Linked DNA regions of Homo sapiens: all the other regions are linked to region 3. Evidence: fine-mapped expression QTL. A gene starts in region 3. Each other region holds a variant in brackets. All regions are shown on one strand. Distances are from middle to middle.

Region 1 (10,302 bases), 19 kb before region 3:
TGCTTTATGGCACCCAACAGATTCCTCATGCAGCATCGGCCTGCAGTCTCCTGTGGCTGTGAGCTCACTGTACCATGAGTCTGCCTGTGCCCTTCTTAGTTCCAGTTGCTCATGGGGACTTTCTATCACTCTGCCTCCTGGTCCCTCTTCCACGTTGACCCTCTGTTATTTGTTTTGTTTTGGGGAGACAGAGTCTTGCTCTGTCACCCAGGCTGAAGTGCAGTGGCACGATCTTGGCTCACTGCAACCTCTGCCTCCTGGGTTCAAGTGATTCTCATGCCTCAGCCCCCTGAGTAGCTGGGATGACAGGCATGAGCCACCACACCCGGCTAATTTTTGTATTTTTAGTAGAGACAGGGTTTCGCCATGTTGGCCAGACTGGGCTCGAACTCCTGACTTCAGGTGATCTGCCCGCCTCGGCCTCCCAAAGTGCTGGGATTACAGGCGTGAGCCACCGCGCCTGGCCTGTTATTTTTTTTAAGCAGCATAAATGCCTCCCTCCCAAAACATCTCCTTCCCCCAACCCCATTACAGACCCTCAAGCCTTTTCCATGCCCCTTGTCCTTCTTCCATGGTCTCCCCTTCCATCTCTTCCTTCTCTGGACAATCCTCTCATAAATACATCCCTGAATAAGGACACCGTGCTCCCACATAGGCCCAAGCAGTGGAATCGTAATGAAGGGCCCAATTCCCAAGGGTCAGGCCCTGTGCCCTTTACATGAGATCTAATTGAGTCCTTGCTGTAATCCTGGCAGACAGGTACTCTTATCCCCACTTTACAGAGGCAGGAAAAAGTTAAGACACTGGCCCCGGGTCACATAACTAGTAGTATCAAAAGTAGGGATTCGAACCCAGATGTTTTTAACTGCTATCCTCCCTTAACCTGGACTTTATGCTCCTAGTAATACGATCGAATATTGTATCAGCTTTTAAAATAATCTACATCCCACAGTTGCCTCATTTATCTTGTGGGCAGCTGAATGGGTGGTGTTCAAGTCAAGCTGCTCACGAGAGTCACTGGAGTACTCTTGTTAAAAGTTCCGATTTCTAGGTCCTTCTCCAAAGCCAATAATTTAGGGTTTTGAGATAGGGCCTAGGGAATCTACACGCTAAAGTTAAAATGCTTATTTCCAGGCCTCGGGATTTCTGATTCACTAGGTGTGGGGTGAGTCTGGAGCCTACGTAGTTTTTAAACTTCCTTTGGTGATTCTGTGGCATGACCAGGGGCCTGGGACCAACCGCCCTGGTATATATGGCTCCACTATAGGCAGCGCCTGGGCCATTATAGCTCGCAGTCCCAGAACTCGCCACTAGATGGCAGGACAATACGCCCCTCACCAGCCTAGCCCAGCTCAGCTCAAGAAGGACCAAAGCAGCCTAGGCCACTCAGAGATCCAGGCCCAGTAGACAAAGTTTCAGGTGGGCAGGGCCCCCCACCATCCCTGCCAGCTGTCTGCAATCCCAAAAGGTGGCTTTTGGGGGGGAAATGGCTTTTGTTTTCTTTCCTCCACAGGATGCCAGAAACATCAGTGGGGTCGGCAAAATTTGAAAGCTGGCCTCAGGACAAATAAAACCTGTTAAGCCACCCAGATTCCCTTCCAGCCAGGAGGCCCAGATCCTGAGCCCAGCACGCTGTGAGGACGATAGACCACCCAGCAGGAGATGAGTTGAGGAATGGCCTGATGCCAGGCAGGAGGTCTTCCTCTGTGCGTGCAGCTCCAACGTGAAACGGCAGCTTTTTCCCTTCCTCTGAGGGGTGGCAGGCAGGTGGCCTCCTGGAGTAAAACCACAGGACCACAGGACCACGTGGGCAGCCCCAGGGAGTCAGACACACACGTGGGAACCTCGAAGCAAGACCCTGAACATCACTTTGTCCAGCCGCCTGCCTCCTCTTCATGTTCCTACACGATTAATGAGCCTCCCTCCTGGCCCCTGGGCATATGGGGAGCGCCTCCTCCTCTGGGTGCCAGGACCCCCCTGCCAGGGACAATCAGGCAGCCAGGTGTGGCCTGTGAGAAAGGGGAGGCCCTTGGGTCACATGAAAACTGATTCAAGGAAGGACTCCATGGTCACCAGAATGATGGGTCCCCAGAGGCCCACACTCTGGTTCCTAGAACCCGTGACTGTGATACTTTACATGGCAGAGGGAGCTAAGGTTGCAGGTGAGATGAGTGCTGCTCATCAGTTGACCTAAAAATAGGAAGAATATCTAGATTAGATTATCCAGGGGGCCCTATGTAGCCACAGGGATCCTTAACGCTGGGTGAAGGAGGAGAAAGAAGTGGGTCAGAGGTAAGTGTGGCTACTGAAAAGGTCAGAACGGTGCAACATGAGAAAGACTCAACTTCCATTCCTGGCTGTGGAGATGGAGGAAGGCGCCACAGACCAAGGAGTGCCGGCAGCCTCTCACTGCTGGAAAGGACAAGGGAACGGATTCTCCCTAGAGCCTCCTGAAAGGGACACAGCCCTGCTGACACCTTGATTTTAGCCCAGTGAGTCCCATGTCATATTTCTGGCCACTGAACCGTGCAAGAATAAGCCACCAAGTTTGTGGCAATCTCCTACAGCAGCCACGGGAAACTCACACACTGGGCAAGGTGGCTCATCAAGGTAGGTAACATTTGATCCTCAGGGACGAGGCTGGGTGAGATAGAGCAACGTGTGGGACTCACACTGCTGGTGTTAAAAGATAAATGGTGGCACATTAAAAAGTTAAAGAGTTTATTTGAGCAAACAGCAATTCATGAACTGGGCAGCACCAAATCGAAGGTGGTTCAGGGCTCCTCCAGAGGAGTTTGAAGGAAGGGCTTTGATAGAGTAAAGAGGAAAATCAGATAAATTAAATAAGGAATGTGGAAAATAAAGAAATTATTTGATTGGTTAAGGTTTGGGCAGTTGCCTTATTTAGATGATCCTGGTGGAAAGTTCCTGATCATGTAATTAATGCTTAGCTGGTCTTTTATGATTGGCTAAGGTTAAGCTTCACCTTGTTTATATAGAATCCCAGGGCATGGGAGCCACCTCAGCCTAATGGCCTCCCATTTTATTTTAACACTAGGTAAGAGAAACAGCTCACATTGGGCCAGACATGGCAGTTCATCCTTGTAATCCCAGCACTTTGGGAGGCCAAGGCAGGAGGATCACTTGAGGCTAGGAATTCAAGATCCAATAATAAAATTTTTTAAAAGTTGGCATCAAACTTGGTTCTAATGCCCATGATCTCAAGGTGTTGTGCCCCCAACAGACCAGGCAGCTTCTAAATGGCTCCCAATGACCCCACCTTTTGTGAAGTCCCCTCTCCTTGGTCATGTCTTGCTTCTAAGAATAGAATCCAGTAAAAATGATGGGCTGTCACTCCTGAGATTAGGTTATGAAAGACTGTGACCTCCATCTTGCTTGTGTATGTGTGGGCGTGCTCGCTCTCTGTCTCTCTCTCTGTGTGTGTGTGTGTGTGTGTGTGTGTCTCCTTATTTGCTTGCATTGATAAGGCCAGCTGCCAAGTTGTAAGCCATCCCATAAAGAGACCCATTTGACCAGGAACTAAAGTGGTCTCTGGCCAACAGCCTGCAAGGAGCTGAGTTCTACCAACAACCACGTGGGTAAGCCTGGAAGCAGGTCCCTCCCCAGTTGACCCTCGGGATAATGCAGCCTGTTAGGCATCTTGACTGCAGCCTGTGCCAGACCTTGAACCAGGAGCACCAGCTTTCATCCTGACTCACAGAACCTATGAAATAATACATACTGTTTTTCACAGAACCACTACGTTTTGGCATAATTTGTAACATGGGAATAGATAACTAATATGCCAAGGGAACAACAATTTGCAGAAACATTGCCCTTCCTCCCCCAGAGTGTGCAGTTGGCTCTTAAGAGTGTGTTGTGTTGAAAACCAGAGTAGGGGCCACTCCCAGGCAACTGATTCCAGACAACTAGTAAGTTAATGAGATGAATAATAGTGACAACATTGATAATAGTAATAGTTAACCTTGTGTAGTGCTTACTAGGTGACAGGCATTATTCTAAGTTCATTAAATATAATGAAATGTATTCGGTCCTCACAGCAACCCTACAAGGCAGGTGTTGCTATTTTCACTCTTTTACAGATGAAGAAACTGAGGCACAGAAGGGTTAAGCTGTATATAATAAAACAAATCGTTTTGGTTTGGTTTTTCTAGAAACAAGGTCTTACTATGTTGCCCAGGCTAGATTTGAACTCCTGGGCTCAAGCAATCCTGCCGCCTCAGCCTCCCGAGTAGCTAGGACTATAGGCGTGTGCCACTGTGCCCCGCAAATGTGAGAGTTTTGTTGGGTAGAATGCAAAGGTGGCATGAATTTGTTCAAGATAAAATGCAATATCTCAAAGCAAGTCTGTGCCTGCCAGGGTGCAGCCCCAGCTAAGCACATCCCTGCTCTCAACTGCATCTCCCAAGAGCACCTGTCCCCTCTCTTGTCCTTGCTTTGGTCTGGGCAGTGACCAGACTGAGAAACAGCAGCTGGTTGGCTGCTGGGGCCTCC[A/G]GCCTGACTGAGCAGGTGTCTGCACGAAGCCGTTGCCCAGGATGGTGACCCCCGGCCCTCACAGCACAGCACCCAGACACAGACACTCCGGGCCAACATTTGGGTTAAGAGGGAGATGTGAACATTTTTCCAACAACACAAGTTCTATTAACTCTGGAATCAGTTTTTACATTTTCCCATCTAAAATCTTAGATGAGTTACATAAGTGAAAACTTACTCATGTTGTGATAGTACTTTTTTTTTTTTTTCAAGACAGAGTCTTGCTCTGTCACCCAGGCTGGAGAGCAGTGATGAGATTTCGCTCACTGCAACCTCTGCCTCCCGGGTTCAAGCGATTCTCCTGCCTCAGCCTCCTGAGTAACTGGGATTACAGGCACATGCCACCACGTCCAGCTAATTTTTGTATTTTTAGTAGCGACAGGGTTTCACCATGTTGGCCAGGCTGGTTTCAAACTCCTGACCTCAGATGATCCACTGCTTTGGCCTCCCAAAGTGCTGAGATTACAGGTGTAAGCCACTGCACCCAGGTTACTTTCTACAATTATATGAGTTGAATAGATATTTGTGGGCTAAGTTGGAAAACCACCTTGGTTTTGATAACACTGTCACTATAAGAAGAAAAAAAAAATACACACACACACACACACACACACACACACACACACACACACACACACAATTTGTAGAGATGGGGTCTTTCTATGCCCAGGCTGGTCTCAAACTCCTGGCCTCAAGCTATCCTCCCCTCTCGGCCTCCCAAAGTGTGAGGTTACAGGTGTGACCAGCCACACCAGGCCAAGGAAATATATTTTAATTCCCAGGCACCCACCTATCAAGAAACTTTTGAAATGTAACCAGCTCCGGTGTGGACTGGCCAGAACCCACAAAACAACAATCAGGGCATTCGTGTTCATTGTCAATTGAAATGCCATTGGGTAAATAAGGCCAGAATAACTTTTTCTCCCCCAGGCAGCCCTGCTATTAAAGAATCTCCATTTGTCTGTAGAACTGCATACCTGGGAGGAGAGAAATAATTTTTAACACAAGGGGCAAGGACTAGTTTTTTCCTCCAGGAATGAAAGATACTACTAATTTCATAGGAAAATGAGAACATCAAGAAATAAAACTGGGGTCCTTCTAAAGCGAACAGGGCAATTTTAAAGATTCTTAGACTCATACAAGAGACCTTGCATCAAGCTCCCCCTGCAGAATGGTCACGAGGTGCCTGAGATGTTTATTCTTTCAGCCCTCAGGTGACTAGCAGGTGATCTCATGTGACCAGCAGGTCACTTCTGGTCAGGACCAGCCTTATCTGTTGACCTCAGGGTGCCAAGCAATTATGGGAAGTAAGGCCCTTGTGCAGAGACCCTCAAGCTATAAATGAGCAGGAGAATCACCTGGGTGGTTGCTGAAACTGCAGATAGCACACCCCAGCCCCAATGAGCTAGCTGGTTTTTAGTACCAGAGTGATATGGTTTGGCTGTGTCCCCACCCAAATCTCAACTAGAATTGTAGTTTCCATAATCCCCACGTGCCATGGGAGGGACCCAGTGGGAGGTAATTGAATCATGGGAGTGGTTTCCCCCATACCATTCTTATGATAGTAAGTTTTCATGAGATCTGATGGTTTTATAAGGGTCTTTTCCCTTCACTCAGCTCTCATTCTCCTTCCTGCCACCCTGTGAAGAAGGACGTGTTTGTTTCCCCTTCTACCATGATTGTAAGTTTCCTAAGGTCTCCCCAGCCATGCTGTACTGTGAGTCAGTTAAACCTCTTTCCTTTATAAATTACCCAGTATTGGGTATGTCCTTATAGCCACGTGAGAACGGACTAATATACAGAGCCAAGGCATGTTTGAAGTACCTGGAGAGTTTAAAAACCCTAATGTTAGAGTTCCTTTCCACCCCAGAAGGTTCCTATTCAATTGGTTTGAGGTGGGTCCCACAGTTATTCTTTAAAAGAAGCTGCTAACATGTGGACAAGATTGGATATCACTGCTTTCTCAGCCCAACTGCACACCCAAGGTAAGAGTTTCCTAAGACACCTTGACAGGTGCATCTGGCCCAGGTCTCAGATGTTTTCCCGCCTTCCTGCTGCTGAGACCAGAGCAAGCACTGTGTTAATGCTGGCTGCCACTACTATTATTGTTGTTATCATTTTTATTGTCACCATTAGTATTGGATCATAGCTGCAAGTTCAGCCCACCTGTTCCCTCCCCGTATTCCACGTGGAACCCTGTGGTTTCAGTGAAGCATGGGAGCTTCGTGTTCCATTCTCCTGCCTGTCCCTGGAGATTGGGTCAGCAATGAGCATGTGACCTCATCAGAGCCAATACGATTCCATTCCAGGACTTATATTGAACTATTGGCCAAGAGAAATACTCTCTTTTCCCCTTGGAGGATGACAGCCTGGAGGAGCCAGAGGCACCACAATGAAAAAGAGAGGCTGCCTAAGAATAAGACAGTACAGAAGAGGTGAAGCCAAGAGCTGGAGAGAGATCTCGTCTAAGATGACACTGTTTGATATCCTATTCTGGGCAGAGGGAACAGCAAATGCAAAGGCCCTGGGGTCAGAGGCACTGGGGTCCGGGCTGAAGAACATTGAGGAGGACCTTTTGGCTGGAGTGAGGTGAGTGGGAGGGGGGTAGGAGCTGAGGTCAGAGAAGTGAGGCAGGCAGAGGGCATCAGTAGGGCATTATAGATTACCATAAGGACATTGACTTTTTTTTTTTTTGAGATGGAGTCTTGCTCTGTCCCCCAGGCTGGAGTGCAGTGGTACAATCTCAGCTCGCTGCAGCCTCTGCTTCCTGGGTTTAAGTGATTCTCCTGCCTCAGCCTCCCGAGTAGCTAGGATTACAGGCGCCTGCCACCACACCTGGCTAATTTTTTGTATTTTTAGTAGACACAGTGTTTCACCATGTTGGCCAGACTGGTCTTGAACTCCTGACCTCAAGTGATCTGCCCACCCACCTTGGCCTCCCAAAGTGCTGGGATTACAGGCGTGAGCCACTGCGCCCGGCCTCAAAATGGTCTCTTGAATGTTGAATAGAGTAAATGTGACATCTGGCATCTACACATGGACATAAAGATGGAAACAACAGACACTGGAGGCTATGAGGGAGGAGAGAGAGACGGGAGCAGGGGTTGAAACCGATCTGTTAGGTACCACGCTCACTACCTGGGTGACGGGTTCCATCAAACCCCAAACCTCAGCGTCACGCAATATACCTTTGTAACAAACCTGCACATGTACCTGCTGAATCTAAAAGTTGAAAAAAGAATAAATTTAAAAAATAAAAGCTTGCATCCAAAAACCATGGAAGAATGGTTACTAGAAAACCCTAAACATTGATGACAATGGCTCCAAGGTAGCCCAATTATCTCTGGGGAAGATCAATGCATCTAATTGTTCCTCCCAATTTACAGACAAAGCTGAAGGGGTGGGTTGCCCCTCCACACCTGTGGGTGTTTCTCGTTAGGTGGAACGAGAGACTTGGAAAAGAAAGAGACACAGAGACAAAGTATAGAGAAAGAGAAAAGGGGGCCCAGGGGACCGGCGTTCAGCAGACAGAGGATCCCCGCCGGCCTCTGAGTTCCCTTAGTATTTATTCATCATTCTTGGGTGTTTCTCAGAGAGGGGGATGTGGCAGGGTCATAGGATAATAGCGGAGAGAAGGTCAGCAGGTAAACACGTGAACAAAGTTCTCTGCATCATAGACAAGGTAAAGAATTAAGTGCTGTGCTTTAGATATGCATACACATAAACATCTCAATGCCTTGAAGAGCAGTATTGCTGCCCGCCTGTCCCACCTCCAGCCCTAAGGCGGTTTTTCCCTATCTCAGTAGATGGAACATACAATCGGGTTTTATACTGAGACATTCCATCGCCCAGGGACAGATGCCTTCCTCTTGTCTCAACTGCAAAGAAGCGTTCCTTCCTCTTTTACTAATCCGCCTCAGCACAGACCCTTTATGGGTGTCGGGCTGGGGGACGGTCAGGTCTTTCCCTTCCCACAAGGCCATATTTCAGACTATCACATGGGGAGAAACCTTGGACAATACCTGGCTTTCCTAGGCAGAGGTCCCTGCGGCCTTCCGCAGTGTTTTGTGTCCCTGGGTACCTGAGATTAGGGAGTGGTGATGACTCTTAACAAGCATGCTGCCTTCAAGCATCTGTTTAACAAAGCACACCTTGCACAGCCCTTAATCCATTTAACCCTGAGTGGACACAGCACATGTTTCAGGGAGCACAGGGTTGGGGGTAAGGTTACAGATTAACAGCATCTGAAGGCAGAAGAATTTCTCTTAGTACAGAACAAAATGGAGTCTCCTATGTCTACTTCTTTCTACACAGACCCAGTAACAATCTGATCTCTCTTTCTTTTCCCCACACAAAGCCACTGGAAGCTAAGGCACTTGGTGTTCCTGACCCTGTCATTTACCAGCTGTGTGGCTTTGGAAGCATCACTTCCCTTCCCTGGACACCAGTTCCTACCTGTAAAATGGGAAGATTAGACTAGATCATCTCAGGTCAACAGGCACCATCGGGAAGGGAACCTTCTCCCAAGGCTCAGAAAACCTCTCATGCACACATTTCCAGCAAAAGACCAGATGACCTTTTTAAAAGCGGAAGTGCTGTTGGCAAGAGGGTTTGTTTATTTGTTTGTTTGTTTTTAAGACAGAGTCTCACTGTGTCACCCAGGCTGGAGTGCAACGGGGCAATCTCGGCTCACTGCAACCTCCGCCTCCCAGGTTCAAGTGATTCTCCTGCCTCAGCCTCCCAAGTAGCTGGGATTACAGGCGCCTGCCACTGCGCCCAGCTGATTTTTGTATTTTTGGTGGAGACGGGGTTTCTCCATGTTGGCCAGACTGGTCTTGAACTCCTGACCTCAGGTGACCCAGCCACCTTGGCCTCCCAAAGTGTTGGAATTACTGGCATGAGCCACCACACCCACCTGGCAAGAGGGGTTTTTACATCTTCTTCTGAATGTGGCTGCTGCGGCGTGGTGCCCTCTCTCTTCTTTCTGCCTCTCAGCTCCCATGCCTGGAGCCCAGAGCCTGGTCTAGAGTGGGTATGGGGTGGGGAGGTGAGGGACACACACTAGGTCCCTTTTGCCTTATCTTGGAGCATTTTCAAGTAGAATGACTACAAGGCTTGGAAACACTCCTGTGTGCATGCCTGGCAGAAATGAATGCTCCTGGGTGCCAAAGCCATGCGCACAAATGATCATAGCTGTTTTATTCATAATAGCCCCAAACTAGAAACAACCCTAAAGCTCATCAATGGGAGAATGAAAATATAAATTATGGTATATTCATACAATGGAGTATTACACAGCAACGAAGAAGAAGAATACAGCTATACACAACATCCTGGCTGGATCTCCCAGACTCAATGATGATGAAAGAAGCTAGACACAAAAGAATACATACTGCATGATTTCTGTTTATTTGAAGTTCAAAAATAGGCAAAATTAATTTATGGTGATGAAGGTTCAAGCTGAGGTTATTTTTAGGGGTTTTGACTGGAAGAGGATACAAGGGGAACCTTCTTTGGGTCAGGGAATGTTCTTGATTTTGATCCAGGCAGTGGCTATATGAGTATATACATATGTAAAAATTCATTGGCTGGGCATGGTGGCTCACGCCTGTAATCCCAGCACTTTGGGAGGCCAAGGTGGGTGGATCACCTGGGGTCAGGGGTTCCAGAGCAGCCTGGCCAACATGGTGAAACCCTGTCTCTACTAAAAATACAAAAATTAGGCAGGCTTGGTGGCACATGCCTGTA
Region 2 (10,052 bases), 37 kb before region 3:
TGTATGTGTAGATGGTGTTTGTGTATGTGTGTATATATATATGTGCGTGTGTGTGCCTGTGTGTGTATGTGTGTATATGTATGTGTGTATGTGCGTATTTGTGTGTGTATTTGTGTATGTGTCTGTGTATTTGTGTATGTGTGTGCATATGTGTTTGTGTGTGTATATGTGTGTTGTGTATGTGTGTATGTTTAGGTGGTGTTTGTGTGTGTTTGTGTATGTGTATATATGTATATGTGTATGTGCACTTGTGTGTGTATATGTGTGTATGTTTGTGTGTGTGTATATGTATGTGTGTATTTGTGTATTTGTGTGTGGGCATATTGTATATGTGTGTATGTTTGTGTGTATGTGTGTATATGTAGTGTGTATTTGTGTGTTTGTGTGTGTCTGTGTATTTGTGTGTGCGCATATGTGTTCATGTGTATTTGTGTATGTGTGTATTTGTGTGTGTTTGTATGTTTGTGTATTTGTGTGTGTATGTATGTGTGTGTATTTGTGTGTTTGTGTGTATGTGTTTGTGTGTGTGCATATGTGTTTGTGTGTGTGTGTGTGTGTATCCTCTCATTTAGTCCTCACAATGACCTGCCGAGGAAGTTCTGTTATTAACCCCACTCTGCTCAGCACGCGGCCCAGGCCATGCCAACGCTAAGGCACTGAGCCAGGCTGCTGACGTGGAGCCCACACGTGCGACCACTGTCCTACCCTAAATCCCAAAGTGGGAAGGCCGTGGTCTAGACCTTGATCCCAGAGGCCCAAGTTCAATTTCCATCCCTGCCACTGGGTGTCTTGTGTATCTTTGGACAAGACACACCCCCTCTTTGGTCTTCTGTCTCTTCAGTGAAAATAAGAGATGGGACCCTGAGGCTCTCCCAGGCTTATTTGACTGCTAGTGTTCCAAGAGCTGGGGGATCCAGCACCCCTCTGTGCCAGAGAGCAAACAGCCAGCTACCTGAGTTTACATTTTTTGGCTTCTGCAATTACAGCTGCTTCCCCACTGGACCTGGGGAATTTCGCCTCCAGGTGGAGCAGAGGGGCCATTCATGAGGGCATTTCCTGACCCACCACTGAGCAAGGCCCTCCCTGTTATGTGGAAGCCTGTGGAACCCAAGAGTTTGAGAACGTAGCTCATTTGCCATTCAATCAGTGCTGTCTCCTACACACCACTCCCCTCCCTTGAACTTTCTCAGCAAAATTTGCCCCAGAAGAAGAACTTCTCTGAGGCAGCTTAAAAGATGCTAGAAGGTTCTGTTGTTGTTGTTTGTTGTTGTTGTTGTTGTTGTTGTTTTAAACAGAGTCTTGTGCTGGAGTGCAGTGGTACGATCTCGGCTCACTGCAACCTCCACCTCCCAGGTTCAAGTGATTCTCCTGAGGTTCAATCTTAGCCTCCGAGTAACTGGGATTACAGGTGTGCACCACCATGCCCAGCTAATTCTTTTTGTAATTTTAGTAGAGATGGGTTTTGCCATGTTGGTCAGGCTGGTCTCGAACTCCTGGCCTCAAGTGATCCACACGCCTTGGCCTCCCACAGTGCTGGGATTACAGGCATGAGCCACCATGCCCGGCCTAGAAGTTTCATTTCTTTCAATGAGTCTACCTCCGTGGTGACTTCTGGCTCCAGGCCGGGCCTCTTGCCCCAAATCTGTTTATCCACAGCATTGATATGCAGACTTTTTCTGTATAAGGCCAGATAGTGAATATGTTACGATCTGGGAGCCATATGATCTCTGTCAAAAGTCTACAACTCTGTCCTTATAGCAACAAGACAGCAGCCATAGACAACACATAAGCAAATGGGCACTGCTGAGTTCCAATAAAACTTTATTTATAAAATCAGTCGGCCAGCTGGATTTGACCTGCAGGCAGGCTGTAGTTGGCCAAATCCTAACAGAAGCTTCCATGCTTTTGCACAAAGAAGGGAGTCATGGGGGCAGCTTCAGGCAGAAAGCCAGGTGGGGGACACAGATTGCAAATTCAGAGCAGGGGAGACTCCTCATGCTTCTCCAAGCACAACTAATTAGCTACCATGCTGAGATTCTCATCTGGAGTCTGTTGCAGTAAGGTTCACAGTACACTGAAGAGTTAAGATCAAGACTTTGGAGTGTCAGAAGCCTGAGTTCAGATCTTGATTCTGCCGCTAACAGCTGTGTCGTCTTGGGCAAATTGCTTGCTGTCTCTGGCCTCCTTTCCCTGTAATGCTGGGCTGGCAGTCCCAAGCCCCAGGCATGTTGTGAGAATCACGCTTATAAAGTGCTGAGCACAAGGATGGCACGTGGGAGGTAATCAGTCGGTCTCAGCAGCTGTGGTCATTGTCACCAATGTGTGTGTGTGTGTGTGTGTGTGTGTGTGTGTGTGTGTGTGTGTCTGGGGAGCTGACTGAGCCTCCCCTGCTGACTCAAAATGGTCCTCTCTTCAGCTCCACAGGCATCCGGGAGGCTGAGCGTTTTGGAACGCCCCCTGGCAGGGCCTCCAGCGTCACGCGGGCAGGAAAGGAGGAGAACAGCAGCGGTCTCAAGTACAAGGCTGGCCGGGTAAGTCTCTCAATGGATTTACCTGTGAGTCCTGCAGACCCGGGAAAGGTCTTTTTTTCTCCTCCCGGGAGCTCTGTGGCTCCTGTGCTGGCCTGTGAAGGTGGAGTGCCAGGCCGGGTCACGGGGGCATCCAGGACAGATGCCCTGGATGTACCTTCAAGGAACCTTCACGATGCTTTGGGTACAGTGCACAAAGCCCCCGCAGGGCTTCGAGTAGCACCTGGATCTCAAAGTGCAGGTCTCACCTGCCTGCATGAGAATCACCTGGGGCTATTACTGAACTTGCAGATTCTGGGACCCACCTTGGTCTCCTGGAAAAGGAGTTCTCTGGGGCGAGGGGGATCCTGCATTCAGCTAGGCTGCCCAGAGGGTTCCGGCGCAGCCCCAAACTCTGAGCCCCAATCACTGATTTCAATTTGCGACTTCAGTGACCTGACCAATAGCAAAGATGAACCCTCTGGTGACTCCAACCAAACAGTATGAAAACATGTGCAGTTCAGGTCTGATTGCACAGACTCCAACTGACACAGATTCCTCAATGGAAATGCACAGACAGAGACGGCAGAACTGGGTAATCCAAAATGTCTTCCATTTGAAGAAGGCATGATCCCCATTCATTCATAAACATGAATACATTGCCACTTTACCCTTAAGAAGCTCCATTCTAGAACGTGCATTCTAGTAATTGGGGCTGATATTGCCCCCCAAAGGAGTGAAAATTTGTTTTGGCGCTGGTGGGGGGTGGGGGCGGTGGCAAAAATTCTTATTCTTTCTATGTAAAAGCACAAATGTACATATGGTACGGAAGCAGAGGCGTAGTATGTCTGTGGCATTACAATTTCACAGCAGGGGTGCAATTAGGAAAAAACTGTCTAAAAAGTCTCCTTAGGGAGCAATAATAATAATAAAAAAAGAAGATCTGGAAACACTGGTCTGGAAAGAAAGGCAGTCAAATAAATAGTTACAAAGCACTAATGTGACTACTTTAACACAGAGATGTGTGCAGTAAGAGAGAAGTATTTTTGAAGGCCTACTATGTGTGATAATAATAGTCACTATTCATCAAGTACATCAAGGACTTACTCGGTGCAAGCACTTGCTATGTGCTTTGCAGATGGGACTTGACTTTTTTTTTTTTGAGACAGGGTCTCTGTCAGGCTGGAGTGCAGTTGCACGATCTCAGCTCACTGCAACCTCTGATTCCTGGGTTCAAGTGATTCTCATGCCTCGGCCTCCTGAGTAGCAGGGACTACAGGAGCTCGCCACCACGCCCGGCTAATTTTTGTATTTTTAGGAGAGGCGGGGTTTCACCATGTTGGCCAGACTGGTGGGACTTTACTTTTTACAACAAACCTGGGAGTTAGAAACTACTATTCCCATTTTGTAGCTGAGAAAAATGGGCTCAGAGAGGGGAAGTGACTTGTCCAAGGTCACACAGCTGGGAAGTGGCAGAGCAGGGATCTGAACCTGGGTCTGTGAGTCTCCAAAACTCGCATTCTTTCTGCCACACCAGGCCGTCTAGAATATTCCTCCTTGACTTGGGAGTGCAGTCAGACCTCATGGGCCTGCTCAGACATTCTCACAGGTAGTCTCCAGGACACACTTCCTCAACTCTCCACCCACCAAGGAGGGAAGAAGGAGGCTTTTGTGAATCAGGAATAATCAGACTAACGATATTTGTCCTCACCCTTGGTAACCAACTGAATCCTTCCGGGGGCAGGGGGACACAAAGCTCTCCCCTAATGGTCATTCACAAACTCCCCTCAACCTCCCTGAGCAGGGAGTATTATTACTAATAGGAGGAGCACACAGAGGTTAAGTAAGTTACTCAATCACAGAGCAATTAGAATTGGAGACATTTCCCAGACCTTCATTCTTAATTCTTGTTTCTCTTCTTCCTGTCCTTTGATCATATTCTTCTCTTCTCAGCTGCCCCTGGGGAAGATAGGAAGGGGCTTCAGCAGCAAAGATCCCGATTTCCATGATGACTATGGCTCTCTTCAAAACGAAGATTGCGGAGACGATGACCCCCAGAGCAGGCTGGAACAGTGCCGTCTGGAAGGCTACAACAGCCTGGAGGTCACCAACGTGTAAGGAACTGGTGGCTCCACCAGACCCAACGTGAGAGACCCAGGAAGGAAGAGAAGCCAGATGGCCCCAGGTGTCGTTCTCACTGTACATAGCGGCCGCAGGCTGAGGATGTCCCTTGCTCCTGGGCAAAATCCCGATGGACTCTGCGGTTTCAGCTCCACAGCGCCCAGGAGAGAGAAGACACCAGCCCACCTGTCTTGGGTGGGCCATGGACTTTCCTGTTCAGCTGGAGATGGGCCCAGAGGACCTGTCACAGTGTCCGGCCCTGCCTCCATCCAGGATACACAGGCTCCACCTCAGAGTGACCGTCACTGTGGAGCAGCCAAGCAGTCCCTGGAGCCTTAAACGGAGCTGCCAAGGTGGGA[G/A]GAGGCCCACAGTTCCCTAAAACACCCTTCCGGCGGGAGCAGGGGGGACCCCAACCCCACACCCCAGCGCCCAGTGCATTGGCAGAGCCGGGTGCAGGAAGTGCTGCCTCTTGCCGAGACGTCGGACAGGGCGGGGGTTGGGGAACTCTCGGCTACAGCATCTTACCCTTGACTGAGAACTTGGGTCCTGACTTGGCTCACTGAATCTCTCTTGGGAGAATGCAAAATCCTTCCACCTGAAAAGCTCTGTGACACATGGGGGTGGACGTATTGAAGAGCTGTTTGCCGATCCACCCAGGAGTGGCTACGCTGAGTGGGGAGCCGGTGAATGATCCGTGCAGGAGTGGGGCTTAGCAGCCACATTTCTAGGAGATGCAGATATCCTATCACCAGAATGAAAGCTATTGGGACAACAGGATCGGGGATGACCGACGGCCCCATATGGTGAATCTCTGGCCTGTGGTTTGGCTTTACTGAGATTCCAAACCCCACTATCTGCACTCCGTGACAGTGGTATGGAGTGTGGCAATGAGTTTGGGGTCTGGGGCAGGGAAATGCTTGACATTGTTAACCCAACAAACCTTTGTTGTGATGTCCCTGTCACCTGAAACATAGGTGACATAGCTCACCAATGTCCTAACCGAGACACAAACTCCACAGAGCAAAATCATTTGGTATTGGTGGGGAGAACCCCAGCCCTTTTCTTGACCTGCCACTGTTATGCTGTGTGGCTTCTTCCCAGTGGCCTCACCTCTCTGTGCCTCGATGTCTTCATCTACGATACTTCTGGTTCCCTCCCAGGGACATCGTGAGGATTAACACTTGCTAATATCTGTAACACAATTTGTAACCTCTCAGGAGACAATGGGAAGTTATGGGGTAGCTAATTTCCCATTTACAACACAGAAATGATATAGAGCTAGTTCGCTCCAACTCTTTAGGTTGAAGCAGTGTGCAAAAGGAAGAAAAGAAATGTTTAATGTTCAGACCTGCCAAGAGCCTCCAACAGGGCTCAAGAAACATATAAATCCCATGAGCACAGCCTTGAAAACCAGTTTGACTCAAGCCTTCGGGCCTCAGTTCATTGACCAGATGACAGCCACGTGATGATTAGGGAAGGACGGATGCATTGCGATTCTGCTTACACATCGGGTTATCAAAGCGAGTCACTTGTTGGAACCATGATGCTCGACCTCCTTCAAGGCCGTTTGCACTGGGGCTTGAGTTTCCAAGATTCACAACAGGTGTCAGCCTCTGAGAACCCTCAAAGCGTGTGTTCTTCAACCTGGCAAATTGTTTCCTCTCATGGGGGAAGCCGAGCTCTGATGAACTTGAGAATTACACCTCTCTCATGCCGAAGACCGTGGTGTTCCCCCTAATGACATAAACGCAGCCTTTCTTGCTGTCTGAGACCAAATGTCTAGTTGGTAGACAGGTGGATGTTTGGCCTCCTAAGGGCACACTTCTGATCCTGGGCCCCAGGTGGTGAATCTCTGGCATGTGGCTTGGCTTTGTTGAGACTCCAAATTCCATTATCTTCATGACATTCGGCCTCATCCATAGGGTCCTGAAGCTGCAGTCCACAGCTCAGAAAGGAGAGGTGAGACCTCCCTCCAACCTGGTGCCACAGGTCTCTCCCAAGCCACATCCAGCCTGGATGACCTGGGACCCCAGAAACTGCCGTTTGGGAGGCAGCAACAGCAACGTGCCCAGGCAGGCAGTTATTCCCACAGAGTGAGCCAGAATTGTAGCAGGGCACTTGAATGCAGAGCTGATGATTTGAAACCAACGTTCACCCAACTTGTCAGAAATGGCACTTACATGGTTCGATCTTGCTGGAGACAAGTGGACAATTGGGGGTCACTGGCAGAGACAGTATTGCCCAAAATGTTCACAGCAGGAGGCCAGCAGGCCTGAGGCAACACGGGCAACCGCGAATGCCTCTTTTGGTTTAAATTATGCCATCACAACCCTCTTTCACCCATGAGGCTCCCCATCCCTGACAGCCAGGTGAGCATTTGGAGCTGGTTTCTCAACATGAGGATGGGTTGGTTGTTAAATTAACAACCTCCACAGTATCAGATTGAGTGAGCTTTGTCTGCTGGAAAAACCTGAAACGTCAACTCTGCTTCAAGGTCGGCAAGAAGAACAGAAGGCGGAGACTTGGCAGAGAGACTCAAGCTGATTGTCACAGGCTACAGAGGGGCCAGCTCCAGAACAGTGACCAGCTACATCCTGTCCAAGCAGCCCGAGTGTGGTCTTGGTCCCTGCAGGGCAATGTGGGCATCTGGACCTGGGGACGATGTGGATGCACTTCTTGGAAAGCTGTTGTAGCTTGTGCCTGTGGGTGGAGAAGGCACCTGCCTGGTAGACTCTCAGCTTTCTGACCCCCAGGAGCCTCTGCGAGGCCCCTTTGTCCTTGGCTGAGCCGGACCTTTCTTTTGGAAATCTGTCTGTCTGTTGGCATCGCTGTTTTCAGACCCCAGGCTGCAGAGGAGGGGAGAAGCCACACAACAATCTGGACCCAATAAAGTGGAGAGAAGGGCGTCTCTACACAGCCCGGCCAGCGTGGAGGGCCCCAGGACAGGGACCCAAAAGCTTGACGTCACTGAACAGGGCTGGGTACTGGCAGAACAGGAAGATTTGGCCAGAGGTGACCTCAGTGTTCCCTCCAGGGGCATCCAGGCCCCTCTGACCTGGGGAGAAGAAGGCCCATGCTCAGGCCCACCTCCCTCTTCCCATCAGAGCCCATGCGTCCTGGGCACCACCACTTCCACTCTGCTTTTCGAGGCTCCGGAGGGCTCTTCCTGCTGTGAAAGGAAAGGAGAAGAAAGCCTGTGGGCAATGGCAACCTCTGAGTCTGGCATTCTTGCCAATGGCTGGCCAGCGAGGAGAATCTCCCGAGCCCTGACACACAAAGGCATTTTGTGGCTGCAGAGGAAATGGGTTGGCTCTGAACAAAGATGCAGTTTCTAGGGCCGTGGCCCCAAATCGCTTCCCCGAGAGTGAATTTTAACACTGTAACAATAAATACTACTGCACAGCACTTTATGGCAGAGGGGGCTTTTTTCTGTGTTTTCTCATTTAGTGTTCCCAGCAGCCTCTTTGTGAGATTTTGAACCCATTTCACAGATGGAGAAGCTGAGATCAGAAAGGTGGAGGGCCTTGCCCAGCTCTGTAAAGCTAAGACATCCCAGGGCAGGGACTCAAACCCAGTCCATCTGCCTCCAAATCCCAGGATCATCCTCACAATTACACACTCTCCCAACCCTCACCCCCCTGCAATGTTGGCAAACCCCCCTCCCCCCACCTCCCAGCATAGGATTTACCTTAGCAGGCAGCATCACTCAAAATGCAATTCAGGTGCACTCGGAGTGTCTGGAAAAGTCCCTGTGGGGGCATTGCCTTCTGCCCTGGGAACTTGCAGTCAGGAGTGGACACCTGACAAGTCCCCTCCCCTTGTGTCATTTGTGTCACTCCGTCACTCCTCCTGGGGGCACTTACATCTTCAGATTACCGGACTGGATTTCTAGTGGTGGGACGCCCCAGCACAGTGCCCTTCAGACCGCCCCATGGCCTCGGATCACCTGGTGGGGAGGTATTTTGGGAGTGCAGGTGCAGATGCGGGAATTCTGGAGTCCCACCTGAGATCAGCATTTCCAACAAGCTTCCAGGTGCTGCTGCCGGTCCAGGGATCTCACATCGAGTTCCAAGGTCATGGCGCACAGATGGGCCTTCCTAGCAAAGCCCTAACCACACAAGGTGGGGGCTGGTCTGTGGGCTCCACCCAGGTATCCAAACAGCCCTGATGGAGCCCCACCTACCAAACCAGGCTGTGTGCTTCTCATGGGGCAGGAACCCAGCTGGACGCGCTGCCCATTGCTCATGTCGGCAGGGGCTGAGCACTCTGGAAGTGTGTATTAAATGGGGAGGAGACAAGAAAAGTTAGAAGACGCTGAAAGATAGACTGGGGATGGCCAGTTTCTCTAGGCTGACCACAGATACTGTATTGTTCAATCCACCTGGGAGCCAGGGCTGGTCCTTGGTGGTGGGGATCCAGTGGCAGAACTTACACAGGTCATGAAAGGAGGTAAGAAACACACCAGTGGCCAGGGTGATTGATTTCAGATAGTGACAAGTGTGATCGGGACTTCAAGTAGAGTGCGGGGGATCCTTGAGGATTTTTGAGCTGAGACCTAAATTCTGAGGAGCCAGCCCTGCAAAGATCTGGGGGAAGACCATCCCAGGCAGGCAGGCAGTCCCTGAGCTAGATGCTGGGACGTAATGGTGAAAAAATCCTGCCCAACCACTACCCTCTTGGTGGGAAAGACAGACATGAATTAAATACTCCGCCAAGTGTCACTGTGGTCTGTCTTTTTTTTTTTTCTTTTTTTTTTTGAGATGAAGTCTTGCTCTGTCACCCAAGCTGGAGTGCAGTGGCAGGATCATAGCTCACTGCAGCCTCAATCTGCTGGGCTCGAGCAATCCTCCCACCTCAGCCTCCCGAGTGGCTGGGACTACGGTCATGTCACCACACCTGATTAATTTTTTTTTTGTAGAGCTTTCACTATGTTGCCAGGCTGATCTTGAACTCCTGAGCTCAAGCAATCCCCCTCAACATTGGCCTCCCAGAGTGCTGGGGTTACAGGTGTGAGCCACCACACCCAGCCAACTGTAGTAAGTCTTGACAGCAGAGGTAGCTGGTAGTCAGAGGGCTTTTCATATCTTTTCACATGGGGGATTTAATGTAGAAAAGAGAAGGTGAGGCCTGGGTGGAGGGGAGTTCAGCAGGTGGAGAGGATTCTAGACAGGATGAACAGTGTGCAAAGGTCCTGTGGCAGGAGGGGCAGAGCCCCACGGCTACAAAGGACCCCCTGAGGCTGGAGTGCTGGGGGTGAGGGTACCATCTCCTGAGGGTAAAGAAGGGGCACCAGGCAGATCCTCTGCTGGGCCTCTGCCCCCTCCCAGGACCCTCGACCTGGCTCCCGTACATCTGTGTCATCCCAGATGCAATTAGTGCTTCCTAAGTGCTACACCTGGACATGAGGCCCCGCCTTCTGCAAAT
Region 3 (10,302 bases):
CCCCTAAAGGAAGAAGAGCCACTGTCTGGAAAGAACAAAAGGGAGGAAAAAAAACTTTCATCAAGTGAAATATTATCACACTACAGCAGCAAGGCGGAGTACGCGGGCAACCAGGACCGTGGCAGGTGTGGAAGATACTGTCATTGCTTCTCCCTTTGGGCCCCTCTGTCCCCAGGTTTATGACCCATTCTCCAAACCTGGATCAAGAAGTCCCATCTGAAGGGTGTCACAAGCAACCAGTTCTATGAGAGCCAGGGTAGAGAAGCTGCAAGAACACAGCCTCCAGGCAGCCTGGGTCCATGCCCAGACCCCAGCTTTGCCAGCTCGGTGTTCATGGTCAGGTCATTTAACCTCTCTGTTTCAGTTTCCCCATCTGTGAAAAGGGGAAATATAGTACCTTCCTCATGTGGTGACGAGCCTGATCAAATGCAGCAGGCCTTGTACAGTGTGTAGCAGACTGCCTGGCCCTGGTCAGCACTGTATGACGGTTGGCTGCTATTATTGTTGTCATTGGCTTATCCAAGGGGTGAGTGGATTTCCTTGGAATCCCATCACACAGGGCCCTTGAGCAGTTAGTTAACTAGCAGAAGGTCAGGGCACCCATGCCTGGCCTCTGGCATTACTCCTCAGCTGCTTGTCGAAGCTTCAAAGGGACTCTCTTAGTGTCCTTTTATTTCAAGAAACAGAAACTCATCAGGAAAGGAAATTCCTGGGAAAAACAGAACAGGAGGGCCAGCAGTAATCCAGGCCTCCTGGATTACACATTAAGAGTAAGTGGGGACTGGCGCGGTGGCTCACACCAGTGATCCTAGCACTTTGGGAGGCCAAGGCAGGTAGATCACTTAGGCCCAGGATTTTGAGACCAGCCTAGGTAACGTAGCAAGAACCCCATCTCTACAAAAAAAAAAATTAAAAATTAGCCAGGTGTGGTGGTGCATGCCTGTAGTCCCAGCTACTCAGGAGGCTGAGATGGAAGAATCACTTGAGCCCAGCAAGTGGAGGCTTGCTTCTTTCTCCTGCTCCCTCTGCAGTTGGCTTTCCTGCTTCAGTGTGTGCCAGTCCAACATGGCAGCTTCCCTGGGCTCGAGGTTACCTGCTGCAGGGACCTGCTGGGGTCTTCTGACAGCCATTGGCATTGTTTCTGTTGTCAAAGCCTCCATTTGGTTCAGGTGTCTTCACCAACCCCCAGGTGACTCCAGGTGAATCCTGAGAGCCTATGCCCATTTTGAGCGTCCTTGCCAGTGACAGGCATATGACCCAGTTCCGGCAAAGGAGGTATCAAGGAAGTTTACTGGGAGCTTCTGGGAAAGGTTTCGTCGCTGATGAAAAAGAGACCCACGGGAAGATGAGAGAGCATGGAGCCCAAGGGATGACGAGTAATGAGGCTGAGCTTGTGAGAAGGGCCCACCCCCTTAGGAAGTCCCACATGTCCTTGCAGAGAAGGCTGGACTGCATGAGGGGACAACGGGGACCCACTGAATTGCTGACTTTACAATACAGAGAATGGATTAAAGGGGGAGGGTTTGGGAGCAGGACACCAGTTAGGAAGCAGCCAGATGAACTGCAATCATGCTGAGGCTTAGAGGGAAGTTTCTACAAGCTGGAGCACAAGAGGAGATGGGGTGATAGGGAGGTAGAATTGCTAGCTGGCTGTTCTCAGGGGTCTCAAGAACTTGTACCCCAATGCGACGATGTCCTCAGAAGCTTCATTCTGGGCTGTCTACACAGGTCCAGTTACACTGGTAACTCAGATAGAAACACATTTCCAGAATCAACATTTTTCAGCAAACGGGACAAAACTGTTTTATTTAAACTAATGGTCCAACTATCCAATTTTGCTTTGCGCTACGTGAGCACAATTTGTCTGCCACACAGACCTGATTCAGCCTTCAGTGGGGCTGGGCCAGTATATCACCAGTGAAACCTACACGCAAGACACATCCCTTCCCGGTGACTAATGTGCACCGTTTCAGGAAAAGGCCAGGTTGAAAGTGCACATACGTGATTTACTGCTGACTTTGGCAAGAGTCATACAGCAGAGACACTGCTCAGCTCCTCACAGGTTTAGAAATAAGCCCACATTAAGAGTAAGTGGGGGCTGGGCGCGGTGGCTGACACCTGTGATCCTAGCACTTTGGGAGGCCAAGGCAGGTGGATCACTTAAGCCCAGGATTTTGAGACCAGCCTGGGTAACGTAGCAAGACCCCCATCTCTACAAAAAAATTTAAAATTTAAAACTTAGCCAGGTGTGGTGGTGCATGCCTGTAGTCCCAGCTACTCAGGAGGCTGAGATGGAAGAATCACTCGAGTCCAGGAAGTGGAGGCTGCAGTAAGCAGAGATTATGCCATTGCACCACAGCCTGGGTGACAGAGAAAGATCCTGTCTGAAAAAAAAAGTCAGTGGGAAGAGAGAGTGACCTGCTCAGAACCAAGCAAGGGTAAAGAATGACAGATGGCAGAGAACAGAGCAAGCAAGGGAGGATACAGGGACAGATAATAGGAGGATATGCTCCTGGTGGACAATACAGGTGGTTTCCAGCCAACTTTATTATTAACACATTCTCACTAAAAAATAAAATTACCTCCCCAACACACACACACCCCCCCTCAGTTTCTAAGGGTAACCTGTTTGGTTTGATTCCTCCCATAGTCTTTCTGTACATAATCAAATATATGTATGTGTGTCTACATCTTTTTAAAAAGTCATTTGTGAGCCAGGCATGGTGGCTCATGCCTGTAATCCCAGCACTTTGGGAGGCTGAGGCGGGTAGATCACTTGAGGTCAGGAGTTCAAGACCAGCCTGGCCAACATTGTGAAACCCCATCTCTACTAAAAATACAAAAAATTAGCTGGGCGTGGTGGTGTACGCCTGTAATCCCAGCTACTCGAGAGGCTGAGGCAGGAAAATTGCTTGAACCGAGAAGTCAGAGGTTGTAGTGCAACCTCTGCACCACTGCACTCCAGCCTAGGTGACAGACACTCTGTCTCAAAAAAATAAAAAATAAAAAAAGTGGTTTGTGTAGTATCATCATATTTAGTGCCTTTCTCGGTGAATGATATAACTTGGACGTTCTTCCATGTCAGATAGCTCTACCTCATTCTTTCTGGTGACTTCATAGTGTGCCAGCATGAGTCTATGCCACAATTTACTTAGCATAGCTCCTAGTGCTGGGCATTGAGGTTGGTGACCACTTTTCACCGTTACAATTAATCAGCAATGAAAACCCTTGGACGTTCTGTTCCTGAGCACATGTGTGAGTTGTTCTGCATGATGATCTATTTCTATAAGCTGATTTTCCAGCCTCACTTTCATTGATGTGCCTGGAAAGTCAGTAGCATGACAGACTGGGGTCTTGGTCACTAACCAGGGACAGTCGAATATTTTAAAACTGTCGTTATTTACCCATTCAGCCAGAAAGAATAAAAATGTAATGCCACGGGAATTCTCAGAACAGCATCCTCTCCTCTTTGAATTCAGGCTTTCAGAACTAGACAGGCTAATGCTCCCACAACTCATGTTCAGGCCACACTGGGTACTTTGTCACATACTAGTTCACCTGATCCCCGAGTTGGTCCTGGAAAATAGGTATTATTAGCATAGAAATGCTAATAATTTTTTTTTGACACATGAGGAAACTGAGGCTCAGAGAGGACAAGACATCTGCCCAGGGTCACACAACTCACAAATAGCAGAGGATTCAGAAACCAAAGACAAAGGTGATGGAATCCTGCCTTCTTTCTAAATCCGTGATGTAGGCTAGATCATGGTGCCTCTTCAGAAGTTTACAGTGGACAGTTAGCCAAAAAAGCAGGTGAAGTGAACATCTGCCTAGGTGACTGAGTTTGCAGGATGTATTAGTTTCCTCCCGCTGCTGTGACAAATTGACCCAAACTTCATGGCTTAGAACAACACAGTGAACTATCTTCTTACAGTTCTGGAGGTCAGATGTCCAAAACGGATCTGCAAATGCCTTCCCACCTTCAAATCATAAGGCAGACCCAAACTTGCCTTTTTGTGGATGCCAAGAGCTCCTTCTGGATGCTCTGGCTGACACTCCATTCCTTTCCTTTTCTAGCTCCTAGAGGCTGCCCACATTCCTTGGCTACTGACCCTTGTCCAGCAACTGTATCATTCTGATCTCTACTTCTATCACCACATCTCCCTCTCTAACTCTGACCCTCCCGCTTCCCTCTTGTAGGAACCCTTTTGACAACATTGGACCCACCAGGAAAATCAAGGATAACCTCCCCGTCCCAACATCTTTAACTTGATCCCATCTGCAAAGTCCCTTTTGCCACGTAAAGTAACCAGTTCTGGGGATCAGGTTGTGAACATCTTTGGGCAGCCATTATTCTGCCTATCACAGAAGGGGGTTCCTAGCTTAGTGATTTAGAGCAAGGGCCCTGCAAAGACCCCAGATTCAAATACTTTGTCACTTGCTAGCAGATCCAGGTACCTAACTTCTCTGAGTCTTAACAGCCTCATCTGAAAAACTAGAATAATAGAATCTTCCTTCTAGGGCTGTTTTGAAAACCAAAGAACACAATGTATGCAGTGCACGTGAAACACAGGGTTCAATAAATGGTAGGGAAGATTCAGAGAAACTAACCATGTAGAGGGAGAGGGCTGTGGAGGAGAGGAGGATAAGGAGAGGCATGCTTCCTTTGGTAGCTTCTTCAGTTTTGCCTGGGCCTCAGCTTTGCCTGAGAATTTCGTCAGTCTCTCCCCAGATCAGCCAGGGTGAGCCTGCTTAAATGGAACACTCTGAAGATGATATCCTGTGATAAACAAGACCTGCCCAGTTGAGTCTGCAGCAGAGTGGGGCGGGTCTGGGATGACCCTGGCATGGAAAAGTACAGCAGCTCTTTGTCTTCAGATTAGGAGCTGGGACAGCTGTTCTGACATGATCACCCCCCGCCCCCACCCCAGGCCTCTCCAAAGTCCATCTTGCAGAGTCAAATGAAAACCAGATTCCTGGTCTTATCTGAGAGCTACGTGACTGTTTCCTGTCACTCCTTTGGAGCCTGGGAAGGTCCCCACATGCATTGTCTAAACTTTGGGATGAATACGCACAGCTCTTAAATGGGAGCATATTATTATAGGTACCTGCCTACACAAAGGGTCCTCCCTATTCACTAAAATCATGGGTTATTATTTAGGGCTTTCATTCATCCAACAAATGTTTATTCCGCATTTGCAGGTGGCCAGGCAAGGTGAACATTCTCTCAGGGTGGAGAGTATGTGCAGACAGGAGGAATTATGCTATGGGAGGGAGAGCAGAAGCTCTGGAGTGGATCATCTTGGGTCTAGATCCTGATACTTCCCAGCTGTGTTTTCACTGGGCAAAATGACCTCACCTCCTTAAGCCTCAGCCTTCTCTTCTATAAAGTGGGCATAACAAATAACCGCCTCCTAGGTTATGAGGATTAAATGAGATGGTTCAGGGGATGTGGGTGGTAACCCCGCCCCTGGTTCATAGCAAGGATGTGAGGAATAGCAGTTGCTGTCATAGACATGGAGACTGTTTCCCCAAATGCCTTCCCACCCCCAAATCATAAGGCAGACCCAAACTTGCCTTTTTGTGGACGCCAAGGTTCTGTCGAGCTGTTAGGGTGCAAGTTAAGAAGCCAGAATGGCGGGCTGAGGGGAGAAATGCCCGCATGTTACAACTCTGCAGGTGTACACACGTGGACACCATATGTACCCATGAATTCCGCCTTTGGAAGTGAACTTGATTGCAGCCTATTTTCGTCTGGAGGCGGTGGATTCCCGGTAGGAGGCGCCTTCAGTCCTCGGCTCGATCCTGTGACGCCAGCCAGCTGCCTATCGGCTTCTCAGTGTTTGAACTTCAAAGGGCTGGACGCTCACCCAAGAAGGGGACCCCGGCCTGACCTCTCTCGGAATTCAAAAAAATCTAAGGCTCAGAGAGGGAATGGGAGCTGGCTCTTCCCTCTGTGTTTAGCATCCACGTTTTTTGGCGGTCTGGCTGAAACCAGCCCACCCTAGTTCGGGCGCCAGAGCAACGCAGTTCCGAGGGCAGATCTCCAAGGGGCGGAGGCAGAGCCGCGGGTGAGAGGCTTCCGCGCCGACTTCGGGTTTGCACTCCCCGGAGCCAGAACTCCGTGGCGGCTCCGGGCCTCCGTGGATCCGAGCAGAGACTGGCTGCCCGCCTGCCACTCGCAGGCTGGGAAAACGCCAGCCGGTGCCTCGCCGGGAAAGTTCTCGGCAAAGCTGGGGATGAGCCCTCAGCAGGGCAGGCTCCCGGTGCAGCGCGCCCCCATCCATTGCCCGCGCGCAAGAACCCGGAATGGGCCCCACCTGGGCCGGGACTCGGGCGTGCGATCCCGAGGGCGCCCTGGGGACCACGCATCGGGTGGGGACCCTGGCCGAGGGCGTGAGCTGACTCAGTTTTTAAAAACTCGCTTCCTCCTTCCCTACTTGTGCCGGTCACTCACCTCGCTGGGAACCAGCCCAGGGCAGAAGGGGGAGAGGGAGGCGGTGGCCTCCCCAGGAAGGAGGAGAGGTGAGTATCCCGCCAGGTAAAGGCGGGGCGGCTGGCGGAGCTGTGCCTCGGCGTCTGCGCCTGGTGTGGGAGGAAAGCGGGTCTCCCAGCTCCACTTAAACCCCTAAAACCTGGGACTTCTAGCTTGAGACATTCCCCGACCACCACCCGTCACACACACGCGCGTGCGCGCACACACGCATGCACACCGATTCTCTGGGCCCTAGGGAGGAGGGGGGATCAGGGCTCTATTTTCTCCCGACCCCCTCTTATCCAACTCGGCTGGCAAGGGTTGGGGAGAACTTAGGCCCAGCCCCCGGCACACGCTCAGCGCGCTCCAGCGGCATACGCTGGGGAGTGGGTGCCCGCCTCGCTCAGCTGCGATCCCTCGCCTCGGGCCCGGGGGTGGTGCCGAGGGCCGGGAGGGAGGGTCGGCCGGTGGGCGGTGCTTCTCCGGGCTGGAGGCCGCTCCTGGCCGGCACCGCCCTCCGCCTCCCGCGGTCCCTCCCTCCCGCACGCCGGCGCTCCCAGGCCGCGCTTCCTGCGTCCCCAACCCGGTCCCTGAGAGGGCAGTGCGCCCTCTCCACCACTGCGTTCCCTCGGCTAAGAATCCCCCGAACCCCAGCCCCGCGATCGCGGCGCCCACCGAGGAGGCCGCCCGGGTGGGGCGCGGGGGTCGCGAAGCCCGCAGTCCCGGACCGCCCAGCCGAGACGGAGCCGGACCCGCCGCCTCCCGGGTGAGTCTCAGCCGCCGCGCCTTGCGCCCGCTGCTTCCCGCGGCGCGCTGTCGGTTCCCCACAGGGCCGTGTAAGGGGGCCGAGGCCCGTTTGGGTCTCCTGTCCGTCCGTCTGTCCGCCGAGCGCTTCCCGCCTGGGGTCGACCACCGGGAGGACTCCGCACCCCGCACCCTCTGCGGCCGCGCCCCGCCGGCGCGGGACGCTCCCGCCTCCCGGGCACCGCGCCTGGCCAGCTGGCCTCGGCTGGGGAAGGCAGCTGGCCTTGGGGGCCCCCTGTTGGCGGGAACAGGTGCTATCCGCCCGGCGGGCTTCGAACCCTTGGCTTCGCCAGAAGCGCTTTCAGCGCGTGGTTAGGAGCAGAACTTCCCAGTAGGTCCCAGGAAACCACCTTGGCGCTTTGCTCGCGCATCCCTTACTGTATGGAAGTCGGGGCCTTTTAGGGATTTAGATTCGTGTGTGTGTATGTGTGTGTGTCGCTCTACAAGCAAACACGGGGGTAAAGAATCGGGCATGAGCAAAGTGGATTGAAACTCGAGTCCTTCCCTGAGCGCGTCGGTTTCTTCATCTGTGAAACTGACATGACAACGTCCCAGGGTGCGGCGGGGCATTCATGCCCAGCACCCAGCAAGCACTCAGCGGTAAGTTACGTTACCGGGCCTAGGGGAGAGCAGAGTACAAATCAGATCTCAAATCAGCGCACAAACGGGAGGCGCTTGGCCCGGCGCGCCTGGTCTGCATTACAGGATAATGGTCTCTTTCCCAACCAGCGGTGGGGGCGAGAGACCTGGCCCCTCCCCCACGGTTTCCCCAGGGAGCAGCCCGTGGGGTGTCCTGCGCAGCGCTCCGAGGTGCCTGTGACGGTGCATGGGACTGCGGGTCCTTCCCAACAGCAGGGGAGGTCTGGCTGCTGGGAACCCGGGCGCTGCCGGAGTGGGGTGGGCGGGGACGAGGTGGGCGGGGCAGGGACCCGAACCGGGAGGTAAGTCAGCGGGTGGAAGGCTTTCCCCTCTAGGACCGGCCGGCTTCTGGCTTTCCTTTTGAATGGGTTACCCGGAGAACAGCTTGTCTAGGGAACTGTTGGCCCTGGGACCGTGAACAGCTTTCACACCCCGGAAACCTGTCACAAGAGGATCCTGACCTATTGGGACAGAGCCCCTGCCCCTCCAAATATCTCACTCCACCAATTGAGAGGTACCCCCAGACTGGGAGAAAAGGCCAAAGAAAGAGAGAGGAGGCTAGTGGTGAACCTGCTCCTCACGGCTTCGGAGCTGACAGCTCTCTGATGGGGTGTCTGGGGCCTGCCCCAGTGACCCAGAGCCCAGAAGCCTCAGGGAGCCCCCAGCCTAGTGAGGGAGTCAGGGATACTCATGAAAAGTGTTGCAGAATTGGCGATACAGTCAGGCCACACCACTTGCTGGCTGTGTGACCTGACCTCTCTGAGCCTCAGCTTCTTCATCTGTAAAATGGGATGATGATCTCCAAGGGCGAGGTGGGGTATTTATGCCTAGCACATGAAGTATTCTATAGTAAGTTATGTCACAGGGCTTAGACGAGAACAGAAGAAAGGAAATAACTCAGGAGGTCCTGCTAAGAAAAGAGTATTAGAATATTCATCAGGGAACTGGAGTCCCCCCAGGGAACAGGGGAGGAAGGGTGTCTGGGCAGATCGAACAGCACAGGCAAAGGCACAGCGACAGGAGAGTGCCTGGGGTGTGCTGGGCTGGGGAAGGTGCTCAGGCAGTGGAGGGTGTGGAAAAGTAAAGGGAATGGAAGGTCCGGAGTGAGCTGGACTGGACAGGTGGGGGCTTTCTTGGAATCATTCAACATATGTTGGCCGAGCACCTTCTGTGGGCCAGGCGCTGTTCTAGGTGCTCAACAAAGATGAACAACATGGAGAAAGACGTCCCTTTCATTCAAGTTCTCTAAGCAGGGAAGTCGTCTGATCCCATCCATATGTTAAGAAGATAATCCTGGCTGCCTGGAAGTTGGCGAGGATCCTAGAGAAGACTCCTAGGAGAGAGAGGCTGGCCTGTGGGTTGGTGGGGGCAGTGGGAATGAATGGGGGAGCTGGAGGAGAGGCCCATACAGGAAGCAGAGAGTAATGTGTGGCCTTCACTCATGACTGTTGGTCAAGGGTAAGATTCTGGGGTTCTACATGAGGCCCAAACTGCCAGCCTGGTCCCCTGCCAGAGAGAAGTAGTGAGTGAGTGTCTGGGGTATTGGCAGGACCCAAGCCCCTCCAGCTGCGACTCTCCGGCTCGCTGGCTCCAGATGTCACGAGGCCTGGGAGTTTCTCTGTCTGCGTGAGGGATGGGAAAGCTGGAGGCAGAGGCCAGCTGGAGCTTCTGGGGCTCCCGTTTTAATAGGTTGTGTTTCTGGTCAACGTTCCTCCCTCCCTCTGCAGGCCTGGCTGTAAACCCCTCAGGCTTCTTGGGCTGGAAGAGGCCAGAGTGTGAGGAGCTTTAGTGTGGATTCTCTTCCCCCAGCCCCAAATTAAGGTGGGAGTCATGCAAAAGAGAAGCATTGTCTCCCTCGGTGCTGGGAAAGTTTCAGAAGCTCAGGTGTCTTCTGACTTGGGATGTGGTATGGGGGCTGCTGACTTTTGCTTTCACTTTTGTTTCTGCTCTGAAGCTGGGAGGAATCCTCCTCTTGCAGCGAAAGCTGTGAGAATATCCTTCTCCATGCTTCAAGTCTCCCTTTGCTTGGAGGGAAAAGGAAGGTCCTAGAATGTCTCAGGTGGAGGGGACCTTCAGGTCATCAGAGACATCATTCTCATTTGACAAACAAAACTCAGAGAGGGGATGGGACTTACCCAAGGACACACAACAGTTCAGCAGCAGAACTGGGACTGGAACCCAGCCCTCCTGACTCCCTTCTAGGGCCCTTTACTTTAACCCAGGAGACCTGGCCACATTCGGGACCAAGACTGTTTTGGGCCCCAGGTTTCTCAACCTCTCAGTCTTTCAAGCGGCTTCATAGAGTTGAGCTCCTCCCCAGCCTGGACAGGTGGTGCAGCCTCCCCTGCCAATGTTTTATTCTCCCTTCCTCTGGATTGAGCCCT

Evidence for each region.
Region 1: its variant is fine-mapped to the expression of TMEM51-AS1 in cerebellum (GTEx, PIP above 0.99). The same link has a PIP of 0.9 or more in cerebellar hemisphere and iPS cells.
Region 2: its variant is fine-mapped to the expression of TMEM51-AS1 in cerebellum (GTEx, PIP 0.97).

What each region holds. Positions count from the first base shown.
Region 1 is chr1:15,127,391-15,137,692 of GRCh38, forward strand. The region is part of intron 1 of TMEM51-AS1 (TMEM51 antisense RNA 1); the gene reads right to left. Among named protein-coding and RNA genes, the nearest start is that of TMEM51-AS1, 20 kb to the right of the region's middle. The variant A/G (reference allele first, on the strand shown) is at 4,516.
Region 2 is chr1:15,110,011-15,120,062 of GRCh38, forward strand. KAZN (kazrin, periplakin interacting protein) reads left to right here. Exons shown (of 15, transcript NM_201628.3): 14 at 2,417-2,531; 15 at 4,461-8,033. The coding sequence ends at 4,625. TMEM51-AS1 (TMEM51 antisense RNA 1) reads right to left here. Exons shown (of 5, transcript NR_027136.1): 4 at 8,317-8,894; 5 at 1,805-7,797. Among named protein-coding and RNA genes, the nearest start is that of TMEM51-AS1, 37 kb to the right of the region's middle. RefSeq lists enhancers at 1,854-2,433, 2,424-2,563, 2,434-3,012. The variant G/A (reference allele first, on the strand shown) is at 4,988.
Region 3 is chr1:15,146,714-15,157,015 of GRCh38, forward strand. TMEM51-AS1 (TMEM51 antisense RNA 1) reads right to left here and starts at 5,751. Exons shown (of 5, transcript NR_027136.1): 1 at 5,578-5,751. TMEM51 (transmembrane protein 51) reads left to right here and starts at 7,034. Exons shown (of 4, transcript NM_001136218.2): 1 at 7,034-7,241. RefSeq lists silencers at 6,857-7,126, 7,187-7,236, 7,327-7,506 and enhancers at 7,216-7,877, 7,657-7,746, 7,878-8,539.